2 separate regions of the Homo sapiens genome follow, and region 2 is linked to region 1. A link means that fine-mapping ties the variant in region 1 to the expression of a gene that starts in the linked region. Tissue or cell type: regulatory T cells. Region 1 holds a variant in brackets; the other region holds the start of a gene. All regions are shown on one strand. Distances are between the middles of the regions.

Region 1 (8,000 bases):
CAGTGTTTCATGGACCTGGGGTTTTATAACAATGTCACTTAGACCTAGGTGGAAGGTACCTCTCTAAGATCAGATTAGGGCCAGTTTCCATAACATGCAGAACTGTGTCAGTGGGAGAGAACTAGAACAGAACTAGAACTAGTCAGTGTCTAGAACAATTTATTTAAACCACTTAACCCTATGAGGAGAACAACCTGGGGAAATGAAAAAATGCTATGATCTGCCAGTGTAGGATGGTGACTTACAACCCTGACTTAATGCAGTCATTGATTTAGTTTCCCTTTGATAATCCATGGGTTTTTAAAGATAGTTTCAAAGATTCTCTCTCTTCTCTCCTTCACCGGAATGGTCATGCCATTGGCCAAAATGGACAAGTCATGCCATAGCTGTCTCTGTTTGGGATCAGCAGGGTTTTTGCTAGATGCTACAAACAAGACCTTGAGCATTAAGAACAGTATTCTTAACGTTGAGACTTAAACATTTTAAACTCCTTTTCTTTTTCTTCTATAGAAGATGTATGTATGGGGCTGAGAGGCAATAGTAGGAAAGGTGGAGATACTTTTAGTCTAAAAAAATGATGATGGGCTGGGCGTGGTGGCTCATACCTGTAATCCCAGCACTTTGGGAGGCCGAGGCGAGTGGATCACCTGAGATCAGGAGTTCGAGAGCAGCCTGGCCAACATGGCAAAACCCCGTCTCTACTAAAAATACGAAAATTAGCTGGGCATGGTGGTGCATGCCTATAGTCCCAGCTATTTGAGAGGCTGAGACAGGAGAATCACTTGAATTCGGGAGGCAGAGGTTGCAGTGAGATGAGATCACACCACTGCACTCCAGCCTGGGCGACAGAGTGAGACTCCATCTCACAAAAAAAAAAAAAAAAAAAAAAAAAAAAAAGATGATGATGGGGCAGGAATGCCTGATAAGGAGCTATAAAATCCTCTGTCCCCTCTGAACCTGAACGCTTGTATTCAGCAAAGATCTCCTGAGTTCCTCTATGGTCTATCCTCCTTCCTTGCCAGTAGGGTGAAGTCAACCTAAAGACTGCTTGCAACTTCCTTATAATTTGCTCCAAGTCAAAGATGGACCCAGGTGAGAGATGCCTGTTCTCCAAGAGTTAAGTTTTCACAAGGAAGAGCCAGGATTCAGATTTGTGCTGTCACGCTCATGCATCTGCTTCTGCTGGCTACATCTGGGTCTCTCACAGACCCAGTCCAACCAAAAGCACCTACTAGATGCTTCAGCCCACTCCCTCGTGGCTCATATTTCCTTATCAAGTCATGGTAATGAGGCATTGGATTGAGAGCTGGAAGAGAACTAAAGGGATTTAGCTTAAATTCTCATATTCTACAGAGGAGTAAACAGAGAATACCAGTGACTTCTCGAAGTTCACACAGCTAATTAGTGGATAGACAGACTGAAACCCCATTGTCCTGATTCAGGCCACCCACTGGATATTCTTATGTGCTGTCCTACAGCATGATTTCTAAACAACATAGAGTTTAGTCTTTTTTTTTTTTAATCCTCTCTGACAGTCTGTCTTTTAATTGGTATATTTAGACCATTCACACTTAAAGTAATTATTGATATAGTTGGACTAATATCTACCAAGTTACCAATTATTGATATAGTTGGATCAATATCTACCAAGTTTCTGTTTTCCATTTGCTGCTCTTTTTCTTACTTTTTATTTGTGTATTCTACTCTTTTTCTATTTTTATGTGGTTTTAATGGACCATTTTGTATAAGTCTATTTTCTGTCCTCTCTTAACATATGAATTATACTTCTTTTTAAAAATTTTTATGGATTGCCCTAGAATTTGCAATATACATTTACAACTAATCGAAACCCACTTTCAAATAACACTGTACCACTTCATAATAGTACCTGCAGTAGCACAAGGACCTTCTAACAGTGTATTCCCAATTTCTCCCTCCTGTCTTTTACGACATTGTTGTCATTCATTTTACGTATCCATAAGCTATAATCACTAAACAAATTGTTACTATTCTTATTTTGAACAAATTGTTATGTGTTAGATTAAGAATAAGAATAATAAAAGTTTCTATTTTACCTTCACTTATGTAGATCCAGGTTTCTGATATAATTTTTCTTCTCTCTGAAGAACTCTTTTTACCATTTTTTGCAAGGCAAGTATACTGGTGACAAATTCCCTCAATTTTGGTTTGTCTGAGAATGTCTTTTTTTTTTTTTTTTTTTTTTTTTTTTTTTTTTTTTTAGAGACAGGGTCTCACTCCGTCACCCAGGCTGGAGTGCAGTGGAGCAATCATGGCTCACTGCAGCCTTGAACTCCTGGGCTTAAGCGCCCCTCCCACCTCAGCCTCCCTAGTAGCTAGGACTATAGGCACATAGCACCACACCCAGCTTGAGAAAGTCCTTATTTCTACTTCATTTTCGAAGAGTAATTTTGCTGAGTACAGAATTCTAGGTGGGTGGATTTTTCTCTTTCAACACTTAAATATTTTATTTCACTCTCTTCTTGCTTGCTGGTTTCTGAAGAGAAACCTGGTATAATTCTTCTCCTCACTCCTTTATAGGTAAGGAGGGATTTTTTCCACTCTGGATTCTTTCAAGATTTTCTCTTTGTCTTTGATTTTCTGCAGTTTGAATATGATGATACCTAAGTATTAGCTGGGCATGGTGTAAACCCTAAGTGTAGGGTTTTTTGGTATGTATCCTGCTTGGAGTTTTCTGAGTGTCCTGGATCTATGGTTTGGTGCTTGTCATTAATTCGGAAAATTCTCAGCCATTATTACTTAAATATTTTCTTTTTCTTTTTTATCTTTTTTGAGATGGAGTCCCACTCTGTTGCACATGCTGTAATGCAGTGGTGTGATCTCGACTCACTGCAACCTCCGCCTCCCAGGTTCAAGAGATTCTCATGCCTAAGCCACCCGAGTAGCTGGGATTACAGGTGCGCGCCACCAAACCCAGCTTGTTTTTGCATTTTTAGTAAAGATAAGGTTTCACCGTGTTGGTCAGGCTGGTCTCAAACTCCTGGCCTCAAGTGATCCACCTGCCTTGGCCTTCCAAAGTGCTGGGATTGGGCCAGGTGTGGTGGCCCATGCCTATAATCCCAGCACTTTGGGAGGCCGAGGCAGGCGGATTACGAGGTCAAGAGATCGAGACCATCCTGGCCAACATGGTGAAACCCCGTGTCTACTAAAAATACAAAAATTAGCCAGGCGTGGTGGCGTGCACCTGTAGTCCCAGCTACTTGGGAGGCTGAGGCAGGAGAATCGCTTGAACCTGGGACGTGGAGGTTGCAGTAAGCTGAGATTGTGCCACTGCACTTCAGCCTGGTGACAGTGGGAGACTCCATCTCAAAAAAATAAAATAAAATAACAAAGTGCTGGGATTACAGGCATGAGACATTGGGCCATTGCACTCCAGCCTGGGGAACAAGGCTGAAACTGTCTCAAAAAAAAAAAAA[AAC/C]AAAAAACAAAAAACAAAATTAGCCAGGCATGGTGGCGTGTGCCTGTAGTCCCAGCTGCTTGGGAGGCTGAGACATGAGAATCGCTTGAACCTGGGAGGTGGAGGTTGCAGTGAGTTGAGATTGTGCCACTGCACTCCAGCCTGGGTGACAGAGCGAGTCTCTGTCTCAAAAAAAAAAAGTCATTGATAATGCCCCTACAAAGTAGGTACTATTATTTTCCTCATTTGATAGGCGAGAAAACAGAAAAGTGGTTATGTAACCTATCCAAGGACATTCGGATTTATGTGACAGAAGAGGGGTTTAAATGTAAGCATCTGGACTCCAGAAGTCACCCTCTTACTGCTGTGCTGTAATGCAGTAGTCCTCAGCCTTTATGGCACTAGGGACCAGTTTCATGGAAGGCAATTTTTCCATAGATGGCAGGGTGGGGGGATGGTTTTAAGATGATTCAAATACATAACATTCATCATTAGATTCTCATACCAGTCCGTGGCCCGGGGGTTGCGGACCCCTGCTCTAGTGCCTCTCCCAGTGTCCAAATGCACATTTATCCTTTCATTCAGCAAACACATGTGTTAAGCATTGTTCTAGGCACAGGAGAACAAGACAGACAAGGTCCCTGTCCTCATAACGTGTATATTACAGTAGGAGAGACAGCAAATGAACATGTGAGCAAATGAACAAACAAATGTATTCAGAGAGAGAAGGATATAAAGAATTAAACAGAGTAACATCACATAGAGGCCCAAGATGGGGCATCTTTACAAAGTGTGGTCAGAGAAGACCTTGCTGAGGAGGTGGCATTAGTGCTGAGACCTGAAGGAGAGGAGGGTAGAGGAAGAGCATCCAGAGGGAGGAGTCAAAGCAAAACCAGGAATGAGGATGCTGTGTCCAAGGAGCAGAAAGATGGCCAGCGTGGCTGGTCCATGTGAGTGCAAGGCCAGAGTGGGGGATGGGGGCCACATCAGTGCAAGGCTCTGTCAGGCAGAGTTCAGATATTGTTCTACATATCACAGGAAGGCACTGCCAGGTCTTAGGCAGGGAGTGACATGGCCTCATGCGTTTCCATGGCTTGAGTAAGCCTCAGAACACAGTCAGGAGACCCCAAAGAGTTTGTGCCTGTTTCAGGATAATAGACCATCCCCCAAGGCTGGGTCTCTGGGGGGTGTGCATGTCAAGGAGGGAGACTTGTGTGCGAGGCAGCACCCTCAAGTACAGCTCATGCTGTTAGCAGCAGCATGCAGTGGCGGTTGTGTAGAAGAGAACAAAACACCAGAACTTTAGTGCAGCTCAGGAATCCTTAACCTTATGTGGCTCTCTGTGGGTTCTAAGTCTCCCTTCAGAAATCCTGTTTCAGTGTTGCCACCTTTCCTAGCCATGAGCCTAAGCTTCAGATGCACAACTTTTCTTCTGCACATCAGAAACAGGTTTGCCTTCTTCCTTTCAAGATGGGTGGGTGTTGTTGGTTTTCTCCTCCATGTAAACAGGCAGCAGCAGAAGTGGTCCTGACCCAGATGCCCTGACAGCTTTTCCTGGTGTGATTTTGGAAGGTGAGATTTGCACATCATGCCTCACATTATCTTCTTCCACAGCATTTCACCATCCAGGGCACATTTGGAACATTTGGAAGTCATGAGAAAAGAGCAAATAGCTTGGTCGTCTCTAAGCAGTGAAGACGGTGATTTATCAATTCATTAAAGCATTGTCATTCCATGCATGCTGCATTGTAACCCCTTCCGTTATGCGGAATACTCCGACAAAGTGGTGCAGGTGGGAGGTGGCCTAGCAGGTGAGCGAGAGAGCAAGAAAGAGAGAGAGAAAGGAAACCAGGAAACTCTCCAGAGGCTGCTGCGTGGGGTACGGCATTTTCTTTCTGCACTTACCTGGCAGGATTAATTATACTTTCTACCAACAAAAATGAACCTATTAAGGTAGAAAATAAAATTTCCCCACCCCTAAGATGCCTTACTTGCTTATTTGTTGGGGATCTAGGTCAGTGAAAGTAGGTGAGATGAGAGAAATCATCTAAGAAAATGAACCTCAAGGGGATGAAAATGTGACAGTCTGAGCAAGAGGGTAATTAGACAGATGAACAGACCAACCAACAGGGCTAGTCTGTTTCTCACAGCACCATCTCCAGATACGGTGGGAACTCTTTAATGCAGATCTTACCTGCTTTGTACAGTGGATATATTTCTAACCACTTTAAGGCGATTAGATTTTTGTAAACCAAAAAAACCGCAATACTTTAAAGAGTTTTTATTTGAAGAAATAGTTGGTAGAGATAATTTTTGTAAACAAATAACTATCAGATTTTATGTTAATTTAGCCCGGCATCTGTATTGGAAGAAAGACACTGTTTTGAAGGTGAATTCCGCATGCAGTCCTGTCAATTGGGAATCTATTTGGAAACATATTTTCAAGCTTTGTGTTTCATCCTGTCTTCTTTTCCTAAAGATCTTTAGAAGTGCTGCACACAGTGAACCTCCTTAATCATGTATTTTCTCGCAACCTTTCTTTGTCTTAGAACCACAGAAGGTTAGAGCTGGGATCACAGGAGGTTAGAATTGGGGAACCTTAGAAGCCACGAGTCTAATTCTTTTCTAACAGCTGAATAAACTAAGGCCCAAATGTCTGAGCTTATTTTGTTTATTTTCCCAAACCATCTCCAAAAATGTTTATGGACATTGAAGAAGACTGTATTGCAATGCAATTCCTTGACAAGTCATTTCTCCCTGTACCTGTCACCAGCCATGTGGGATGAGACAGCACATTGTCATTGCATATTCTTTATTCCATTGCTAGCCTGCCAGACACTCTTATGCTGCTGCTTTCTAGGTTTCCCAACCCACTGATTATATTGCATTTTGGATGATTTCTCCCCCAGCTGCCTTCATTTGCATTTTTCTGAAATCAAATCTCATTGTGATAATTTCTATTCATATTTCTAACCTCTTTGGATCCATCTGTGTTATTCCTCTTTCCTCAATGATGTCTGCAGCACCTCCTAATTTAGTACCAATCAGAAATGTTATTAACAAAATGTGTAAGCCTTGTTCCCAGACATTAATGAAGATACGAAATGAAACAGATCTAACAGACACAGTGAGGCCTTCTGTTAGTGGCCTCTTCCCCACCCCTTTATTAGATATTGAATTGTTTTTCATCATTGGTCCTTGTTTATCAAAGTCCAGGCTTTTCAATCATCCTGTTCCAATTCCCATTAATGCCAGCCAGCGCTCTCGTCACGGGATTATCTCAGGAATGCTGCCTCAATGCCTTATCACGCTCCAAAGATACAATGTCTACAGGAGTCATTGAATCAGCAGTTTTAATTAATGATAATATTTATTGAGTTTCAGATGCCAAATGGAAATTTCTAGCTTTGCTTTTAAAAACTCTTTCAGAAGGCAGAAGCATTTGATTATTTTTACCTTCTTCCATTTGAATATTTCATAGCTTTTCATGTAAATCTGCTGTTTAATTACCACTACATTTAAAAGTGCATAAGCCACTATGTGCTTATGAAGAACACAAGTAATATCTAAGAAGTGGCCCTTGGATGAGGAGCTTACAATCTGATAGAGCTGGCTAGACTTGTGTGCAATAAAGACTCTTATAAAAAGACAATGTGGAGTTAAATTGCTCAAAAGTGTCACACTGACTTTTAGGGCTGCAGAAATTTGAATATGGGCTAGGATCATTGGACAAAGCCTACTGCAGAAGGGGAGATTTGAGCTGCACATGAAGAGGATTTGTCTAGGCAAAGAAGAAGAGGAGGGTAGGGAAAACATCTGAGCAAAGGTAGGGAGAGAGGAATGATTAGAACATACTGTATAAGGTCACAGCATAGTTAGAAAATCACCCAGATTGAAGAAGTAAGCTGACAGGGTATAGTGTGTTACAAATCTGGTTACCCATGTGACATCTCTTATTGGATGTCCTAACTTAGGCTTCGCAAACTCAGCATGCCCCAAATCAAAGTTGTGACTCTACCTTCTCACCGAAACTGTTCTTCTGTTCTTCTCCTAGCTTTCCCACCAGAAGTCTGGGTATCATCCATGATTTCTCCATTTCCCTAGTTATCCCTCACCAATTTTTAAGCCAATCCCTTCAGTTCTATCACTAAATTACATCTTGAATCTGCACACTTCTCATTTTTACCACCTTTTAGTTCAAGATCAACTTTTTTCCTAGGCTACTGCAAAAGCCTCCTGAACTGGTCTTCTGATTCAATGCTTGCCCCTCTCTATATTGTAGCCAGAGAGAGCTTATTGGAAATTAAACGACTCTCCAGCTAAATAAATAAATAAATATTTCAGTGGCTTAGCATTGTATTTGGAATGAAATCCAACCTCACTGTTATGTTCTATGGGGCCCTGCGTGATCAGGGCCTTGCACACCAGTCCTCTGTGTCCACCCCAAGTTGGTGTACTTCAGTGTAATTCTGACACTAACCACCCGGGGTTAACATCAGATCCCACAAGTTAAAGGCTGAGTGCTCCACATGGCTGTCCCCACTTCAGACGCCTGCTGCAAGGG
Region 2 (8,124 bases), 330 kb after region 1:
GCAACCTCTGCCTTGTGGGTTCATGTAATTTTCCTGCCTCAGCCTCCCCAGTAGCCAGGATTACAGGCGTGCGCCACCACGCCCAGCTTATTTTTGTATCTTCAGTAGAGATGGGGTTTCACCACATTGCCCAGGCTGCTCTCGAACTCCCGGCCTCAAGTGATCCACCCACCTCGGACTCTCAAAGTGTTGGGATTAGAGGCGTAAGCCACCGCACCCGGCAACAGAAACGGGTTAAACACAACCCAAGGCGTCCCTGGGTGGGCAGGAACTGATTTTTTAAATTTTTTGTAGAGATAGGTTTTGCTATGTTGCCGGGGCTGGTCTCAAATTCCTGGCTTGGCCGGGCGCGGTGGCTCACACCTGTAATCCCAGCACTTTGGGAGGCCGAGGCGGGCGGATCACGAGGTCAGGAGATCGAGACCGTCCTGACTAGCACAGTGAAACCCCGTCTCTACTAAAAATACAAAAAAAATTAGCCGGGCGTGGTGGCAGGTGCCTGTTGTCCCAGCTACTTGGGAGACAGGAAGGAGAATGGCGTCAACCCGGGAGTGAGCCGAGATCGCGCCATTGCACCTCCAGCCTGGGCAACAGAGTGAAACTCTGTCTCAAAAAAAAAAAAAAAAAAAAAAAAATTCCTGGGCTCAAGCAATCATCCCTCCTTGGCCTACCAAAGTGTTGGGATTATAGGCATGAGCCACAGCACCTGGCCAAAAGTTTTTTTTTTTTTAATGCCAGAGATGAAATGAGATGGTGTGGAGAGGAGACTTTCAAGTCCCTGGAAGAACACCTAGTTTGCTTGAAAGCCCCTTAATCTAACAAGTTGGACATACTTATTATTTTGTCATTCAATAATTCAACTGGCAATTACATAGTGTGGATATACTGCTGCTGTGTTTATGTGTGTGTGAGAGTGTGTTAGGGAGGGAGAGATACATAGAAGACACTGTTTTCTAAGAACTCATGGTCTAGTAGAAAACAATGAAGAATAACAGAGGTAAAGATAAAGGGCTGTGAAAAGGGATCATTAATTCTGCCTCAGGAAGCCTGGGAAGACTTCACATAAATAGTAACATTTGTTTGTTTTTGAGACAGGGTCTCACTCTGCCTTTCTCACTGCAGCCTCCACCTTCCAGGTTCAAGTGATCCTCCCACTTCAGCCTCAGGAGTAGCTGGAACAACAGGAACCACCATGCCAGGTTAATTTTCTGACTTTTTGTAGAGGCAAGGTCTCACTCCGTTGCCCAGGCTGATGGCCAACTCCTTGAGGCAAGCAATCCTCCCGACTTGGCCTCTCAAAGTGCTGGATTACAGGCGTGAGCCACCACGCCTGCCAGAAGTTAAGTGAGTTCCAAGAAGAATATTGTGTGGATGCAGGAGCACATCCTGGATGTAGAGATCTTGGCCATAATATCAAGGACTATCAGTGATATGGACATCATACATCCTCATAAAGCATGTAAAGGTGTTAGCTTTAAAATCATTCCTAGGTTGTCTGGAACTTTTGACATAAATTCTAAGAATTCCAGAAGCTCCTAAGCTACATGTGAAATCAAAATGAACCTTTTGGAAAAGTCACTATTACCAAAAGGTGGGTATGTCTAATGATATCTTAAGATCAAAATAAATGACAATTACCGTCACTTGAGCCAGAAAAGATTAAACAGACTTCCCTTCAGTCAATCATCTTAGTTGTATCTAACCCGGAATATATGGTTTGAGCACCATATCCACTTTATCCTTTGCTAATATTCTGGCAGGTGGAGACAAATGTGGAGTCACTACCACTTTACGGTAAACATTCTTGGTATTACCTTTATGTGACTTGATTATTACGGGAGTTTGGTAAGATTATATTTTTAGGACGTTTTCAGAATTTGACCTGTATTCTTGAGTTTTAATTATTCTGTAATGTAAATTCTACTAACTTGATTAATAAAACTTACTTATAATCTTCCTTTGAGATTTTTGGATAGTGTCCAATTAATACAAATTCGTTTAACTGCAGTGGAAAATACCTAAACTTTTTTTTTTTTTTTTTTTTTGAGACGGAGTCTCGCTCTGTCGCCCAGGCTGGAGTGCAAGTGGCATGATCTCGACTCCCTGCAATCTCCACCTCCCGGGTTCAAGCGATTCTCCTGCCTCAGCCTCCTGAGTACCTGAGATTACAGGTACCGGCCACCACGCCCGGCTAATTTTTGTATTTTTAGTAGACACGGGGGTTTCACCATGTTGGTCAGGCTTGTCTCGAACTCCTGACCTCGTGATCCGCCCGCCTCGGCCTCCCAAAGTGCTGGGATTACAGGCGTGAGCCACCGCGCCCGGCCCAAATACTTAAACTCTTAAGATTTTTGCTGGAGTCTGCAAACTCGTCTTTGTTTCCCCCGTGCCCGAACACTTTAATTAAACAGGCAAATAATTATTTGTTGACTACAGAAGTACCTAGAAGCTTCATTTTCTTCTAAGGATACTGCTGGAAGCAGCAAATCCCAAAGCCCGAATAATCCAGTCTCCAGCCGAGGCAGCGGGAATTTTTAATAGGTGTATAAAATTACTTTTTATACACCTTAATGAAACGCCTAACGGTGTTACAAGAAAAGAAAAAAAAAAACCACGCACACACAACAAAAAAGCCAAACCCGAACACAAACTCATAAACCTCGTAAAGATGACTCACGACATTTATATATTCTATGTACAAAGGCTAAAGAACATTAAGCGAACCCTTGATTTAACACACTTTCCAATTATTAGTAACGTAAAGGAATCACGGTACGTTTTAGGATCTTTAAACAACAAAAGCAAAGCAAAAACAATGTTTTCCTTAAGATATGCAAGTTACCTGCTTCTTCGACCAAAAACAAAAAAATTCCAGGAGAAAAGCAGGCAAACAAAAATCTTACTTGGAAAGCCAAATCTTAAAAAGAAGCCCTATCGGCCCAGCGGCGATAGACGAAAACCTCAATGTCACCCGGTCCCGGGCGGCGACGGCAGGGAGAGTAGCTGCGGCAATCAGTGCGCGCGCGGTCCGCTGCGGCGCCTGGCGCTCCGCGGGCGTCCGGGTGGACAGCGCCAGGGGCACAGGGCTGACATCTCAGGGCTAATTCCCTCCTCCAGTGCGTAAATCCAGGCTTAAGCCGCCGCAGGGTGTGAGCCTCCCCTCCCCCACCCGAACGCCGCAGCTGCACGGGGCACGACAGCCTTCGCAGAGGTGCAGCCACACCCCGGCCTAACGCTGCTGCTCCCGCCGCTACTGGAGTGGTGGGGAGGGGTGAGTGGACTCCAGGAATCCTCGGAAGGGCGGGGGCGGAGGCAGGGGGCCCCTCTAGCCGCTACTTCGAAACAGCACTCCTTGTTCTCGATGGTCCCCGCGCGACTGTCTTAGCTCACGACACTTCCGGTTCCTTTTAAAGGCCCCCAAGGCTGTGCAACGCGGAGCGTGAGAGGAAGGTATAAAGGGTAGCGAGAGGGCGGGACCGAGGAGGAAAGGGAAAAAAAAAAAACTAGGGGGATAGGGGTGGGGGGACGCGCGAAGGGCGCGCTCTCGCGTCACGTGACCGGGACGCGCCGTTCTTCCGTCGGCCATTTTAGGTGGTCCGCGGCGGCGCCATTAAAGCGAGGAGGAGGCGAGAGCGGCCGCCGCTGGTGCTTATTCTTTTTTAGTGCAGCGGGAGAGAGCGGGAGTGTGCGCCGCGCGAGAGTGGGAGGCGAAGGGGGCAGGCCAGGGAGAGGCGCAGGAGCCTTTGCAGCCACGCGCGCGCCTTCCCTGTCTTGTGTGCTTCGCGAGGTAGAGCGGGCGCGCGGCAGCGGCGGGGATTACTTTGCTGCTAGTTTCGGTTCGCGGCAGCGGCGGGTGTAGTCTCGGCGGCAGCGGCGGAGACACTAGCACTATGTCGGAGGAGCAGTTCGGCGGGGACGGGGCGGCGGCAGCGGCAACGGCGGCGGTAGGCGGCTCGGCGGGCGAGCAGGAGGGAGCCATGGTGGCGGCGACACAGGGGGCAGCGGCGGCGGCGGGAAGCGGAGCCGGGACCGGGGGCGGAACCGCGTCTGGAGGCACCGAAGGGGGCAGCGCCGAGTCGGAGGGGGCGAAGATTGACGCCAGTAAGAACGAGGAGGATGAAGGGTGAGTAAGGGGCATCCCAGGATAGTCAGGCCCAACTAGTCCCCCTCCCCCTCTTTATTCCCCCGCCATTAGGCCTGGTTCCCGCTCTCAGCCCGTTCTCCGGGCCCCCATGCAGCCTCCTTGCACTGGTCTCCCTTTTTCTATGTTGGGTTCCCCGGACCTTCATTTCCTTCTTCCTTTGCCTGCTTATCGCCCCCCTCCCCCATCACACACGTTTCCACCTTTAGCCGTCACCATGCTGCTCCTCGGCCCGCCCTCCTTTCCTCCCTCGCCATGGGTCTCCTCCCACCGACTTAGCCGCCAGGATTTTTTCCCGCCTGTCGTGGGGTACCTTTTTTCTTTCCATGCTGTCCCCTCTTTTTCCCTTTTTCTACAGTCTTGGGCATAAAAACACAGACACAAACAGCTTCTCTGTTTGTATTACTAAGGTTTATTTGGTGCTTCTCCACCATCCTGAAACGATGCGATTGTTTATAAGCACATGTTTTGGGGAACGCGTAGGCTGTCCACCTCTGCCTCTCCCTTGTCGGCCTTAGGCCGACTGTTTTCTTGGGATTTTGAATAAGTTTCGCCTAAGGATTTACTCATTTTCTCCACCATACGCTATCGCACAATGGCATACTCATACAGGCCCTACATTTTGACATGCAGACCAAATTGGGTCTGGTGAAATGCTCCGAGTTTCTTGTTGGTACATTGGTTTTGCTCCGCGGGCTCTGGTTAAGTTCTTAGTCGATCGGGCCTGCACTTGACTGGAGCTGTTCCTATCTCCGGCCTAGCATCTACCCTTCCCCCACCCCACTGAGTTATTCTAACCGCGCACCCTTTTCGCGCCCTCAGCTATTGGGTTCCCCAACTGTTAGTACAGATTGTACCTTACTTTTTATGTGCAACCTAATTTTTTACAACCCCCAGCCCCCTTTTTTTCCCGGTGCCCAGGATCCTATTTTGGTGTCTTGATATCTGTTTCCCGCCCACTAAGGGAGGCCTGTAGTCCTCTTAAGAGAAACAAATCCTGTATTGTGCTATGGGATACTTTTTTTTTCTTTTTGGTGCAAATTTCTTAGTATTAACTTGCTTCCTCCAATTGAAATAACAGTTGTATATACTACCTAAATCTGCATTTAGTGTATTAAAATGCAGCATTTGGGATTGGGAACATAATACGGGAGTTAGCAGGAGGGACTAAATCAGGTTTCTTGGTTGAGTTTTCTTAGCTCCGATTACTGACCGATGATCGTGGGTTCACGCTTCCATTCCTTTTTGTAATGGGGAGGGGTGTGTGTGTGTCTGAATTTTTTTTTAACTGTAAAGAGAAAGGTGTTGGTGGATATAACAAGATGTCGCTTTAATCTAGTATTAGAAAACACGATTTCCTTTACTGAGAAAGAGCCCAGGATTTGGAGGGAAAGTTGGGAGGGGAGAAGCACTTTGGAATATAGGGTTTATTAAGCCCAGCCTAGGCAGATTCTTGTCAGGCTGTTTGATGATAGTGCTGGTTTTGGGGGAGTGGTGGTGGGAAGGGAAGCAAACTTTTAAAAATTAAACAGAACCAACTCGAATTGTATATAGCTTATTTGAGAAAGGAAGATGTTAGATATTTGGAAACTTAAAACCTTTAACATTTTGGTTTTCGTTTGCTGAATTCTGTTCTTTGGACAGAGGCACCAAAATGATTAATTGTATAACTTCCTGTTTGGGGCAGGCTTTCTGTTAGCCCTGATAATTCAAATCGCAAAGCAGCTGACTTTATAGTTACCTACTGTTGAAGTGTAAATGAATTAAAGTTTTTAACCCTAACAGTGTCAAAAACTAAAACTAGAATTTTGATTGGTTGCTGTACCGGTTGTTAATTCCCTAGCCATTCAAACTCCTCCCCACGACACTCTGAAGCAGCGACGGCACAGCGGGAAGAATGGTAAAACTTTTAAATTTTATTTCTGTATTATAAAGGTTTCAGTAGTCATAATATGTAGAGGCTGTGTATTGGTTAGTTGCCCATTGATCCCCAGGAAATTCTAGACCATAGTACATACAGTAGGTTTGTACCTGGGATATATACCTTTTATAGGCATCATGTGTAATCTTTGGGCAAAATTGATGCCGTTACATGGTATTTGGTCTGTGGTAATGCATGTAGTTGCAGTTTGGCAATTTAAGCTAAACAATTAGTAACGATATTTTTATATCGAGCAAGAAAAAATATTACCGTAATCTTCACATTTGATTTATTTTAAGATGAAAAATATTTTTGTTGGAATTTAAGTTTAATGGCTAAATATGAAGACTCCTTGATATAAAATATTGTGTTTAAAATGTCATGCATGTTATACTGAAATATTCTGGAGATGTCTGAAGCAGTTCTTTAAGCAGCACTGTGTATTATGGAAAAATGTTTGTCTTTTACCTAGCATATTTGTAAATAGACCTTTAATAAGAAGTGTGTGTGTGTGTGTGTGTGTGTATATATATACCATTAAAAGGTGGGCTAATGTGGCTTTCCACTACAGCTCTTACCAGATTTTTTATTTTCAGTGTGATTTGGCTGGAATATTAATAACAGTTGGTTGACATGTATTCACAATTGCATGACTTCTCTTTGGAGGCTGGTAGGTTGAGTATTGTTCTTTTTATCCATCCTTTCCCCTCCCCTAAATGTCAGTCTTTCTGCTTTTAGGATTATATTTGAATTTTCAGGGGTTTATACACCACCACTGGAGAGTAGAAGGCCACTAACTTGCAGGCAGTTAACTTATATCTTTACAAGCTACATTCTATTTTAAGAGCCTATTTAGGGTAACATTTAAAGATTTGCTTATCACTGTATTCTCATCCACTGAAATCAGTCCAGCTTTACCTTGGAGAAAAAGCAGATGGGAAACAGGCAAGGGGAAAAGCAAAAAAGAGGAAAAAAAAAAGACTGGGGTCACAGTTTCGATGAATGTTATTCCCTGTATTTGGTGAGTGGTGGGCACTAGCAGCTCAATTTCACTGCTAGCTAATAGTGGCAAATTAAGATTAAACTATAAACTATTTGACATTACTCCATTATGTATTTTGAGTCTCATGTAATTGTTTCCAGTGATTTGAAATGACCATAAACTTAAATTTGAAGGTCAGTGTTTTGACTCTTCGAAGTAATTACACTTGACCTGCTACCTAAAACGATGTAATATTACAACTTTTTTGAATAATCTCAGGAAAAATGGAGAAATGTTTATATTCATAGTTAATAAACATTCTAGATAGTAACCAACTGTCATTTACTGAAAATAAAATTTTACCCAGGTTTATTTTATTTTTGAGACGGAGTTTAGCTTTTGTTGCCCAGGCTGGAGTGCAGTGGTGTGATCTTGGCTCAGCGCAACCTCCACCTCCCAGGTTCAAGCAATTCTCCTGCCTCAGCCTCCAAAGTAGTTGGGATTACAGGCATATTCCACCATGCCTGGCTAATTTTGTATTTTTAGTAGAGACAGGGTTTCTTCATGTTGGTCAGGCTGGTCTCGAACTCCCGACCTCAGGTGATCCGCCTGCCTCGGCCTCCCCAAGTGCTGTAATCACAGGCGTGAGCCACTGCGCCCGGCCTAGCCAGGTTGATTTTAAAATTACACTTAAAAATAATGTTCTCATTTTTAAGGGCTCTAATATTTGACTTTTCTTAACTTTCCAATTATGCAGCCCTATCCTGTTCCAGACGTTAAGGCTTTCTTTTTGAATGAAAAACTTTCAGACTTTTTTCTCTCTCTTTTTTTTTTTTTGGTGTCTGCACTCCCCACCGTATCTGTCCCTTCCTCTTTCTCCCATTTTGAGGGATATTATAAGGGCAACAGTTTTATAGTCTCAATATTGAGGGTAAGACTGGTTAATAGAGTATCCAAATTGAATTTATTAAACACAGTTCTGTGTGCATTTCCTTCTGCAAATCTGAGAATAAAGTGATTACAGTTTCATCCTAAAATACTTTAAAAATCAGTTGGTTTTAGAAATAGGTTTTTTTCCTT

Alleles and levels. Alleles are on the strand shown, and positions count from the first base shown. SD is a standard deviation of normalised expression in the study named.
As copies of AAC replace C in region 1, the expression in regulatory T cells of the gene that starts at base 3,578 in region 2 goes down (moderate effect, 0.54 SD a copy in Bossini-Castillo 2019).

Evidence for each region. PIP is the estimated chance that this variant, and not a neighbour inherited with it, causes the effect.
Region 2: HNRNPD starts here. The variant in region 1 is fine-mapped to the expression of HNRNPD in regulatory T cells (Bossini-Castillo 2019, PIP 0.95).

The regions. Positions count from the first base shown.
Region 1 is chr4:82,695,028-82,703,027 of GRCh38, reverse strand. The region is part of intron 2 of SCD5 (stearoyl-CoA desaturase 5); the gene reads left to right. LOC124900727 (a long non-coding RNA gene) reads left to right here and starts at 3,634. Exons shown (of 2, transcript XR_007058166.1): 1 at 3,634-5,008. The variant AAC/C (reference allele first, on the strand shown) is at 3,456.
Region 2 is chr4:82,369,445-82,377,568 of GRCh38, reverse strand. It overlaps HNRNPD (heterogeneous nuclear ribonucleoprotein D), which reads left to right and starts at 3,578. Exons shown (of 9, transcript NM_031370.3): 1 at 3,578-4,123; 2 at 5,985-6,041. The coding sequence starts at 3,891. HNRNPD-DT (HNRNPD divergent transcript) reads right to left here and starts at 3,001. Exons shown (of 2, transcript NR_183813.1): 1 at 2,904-3,001. RefSeq lists enhancers at 3,450-3,619, 4,980-5,029 and a silencer at 3,980-4,079.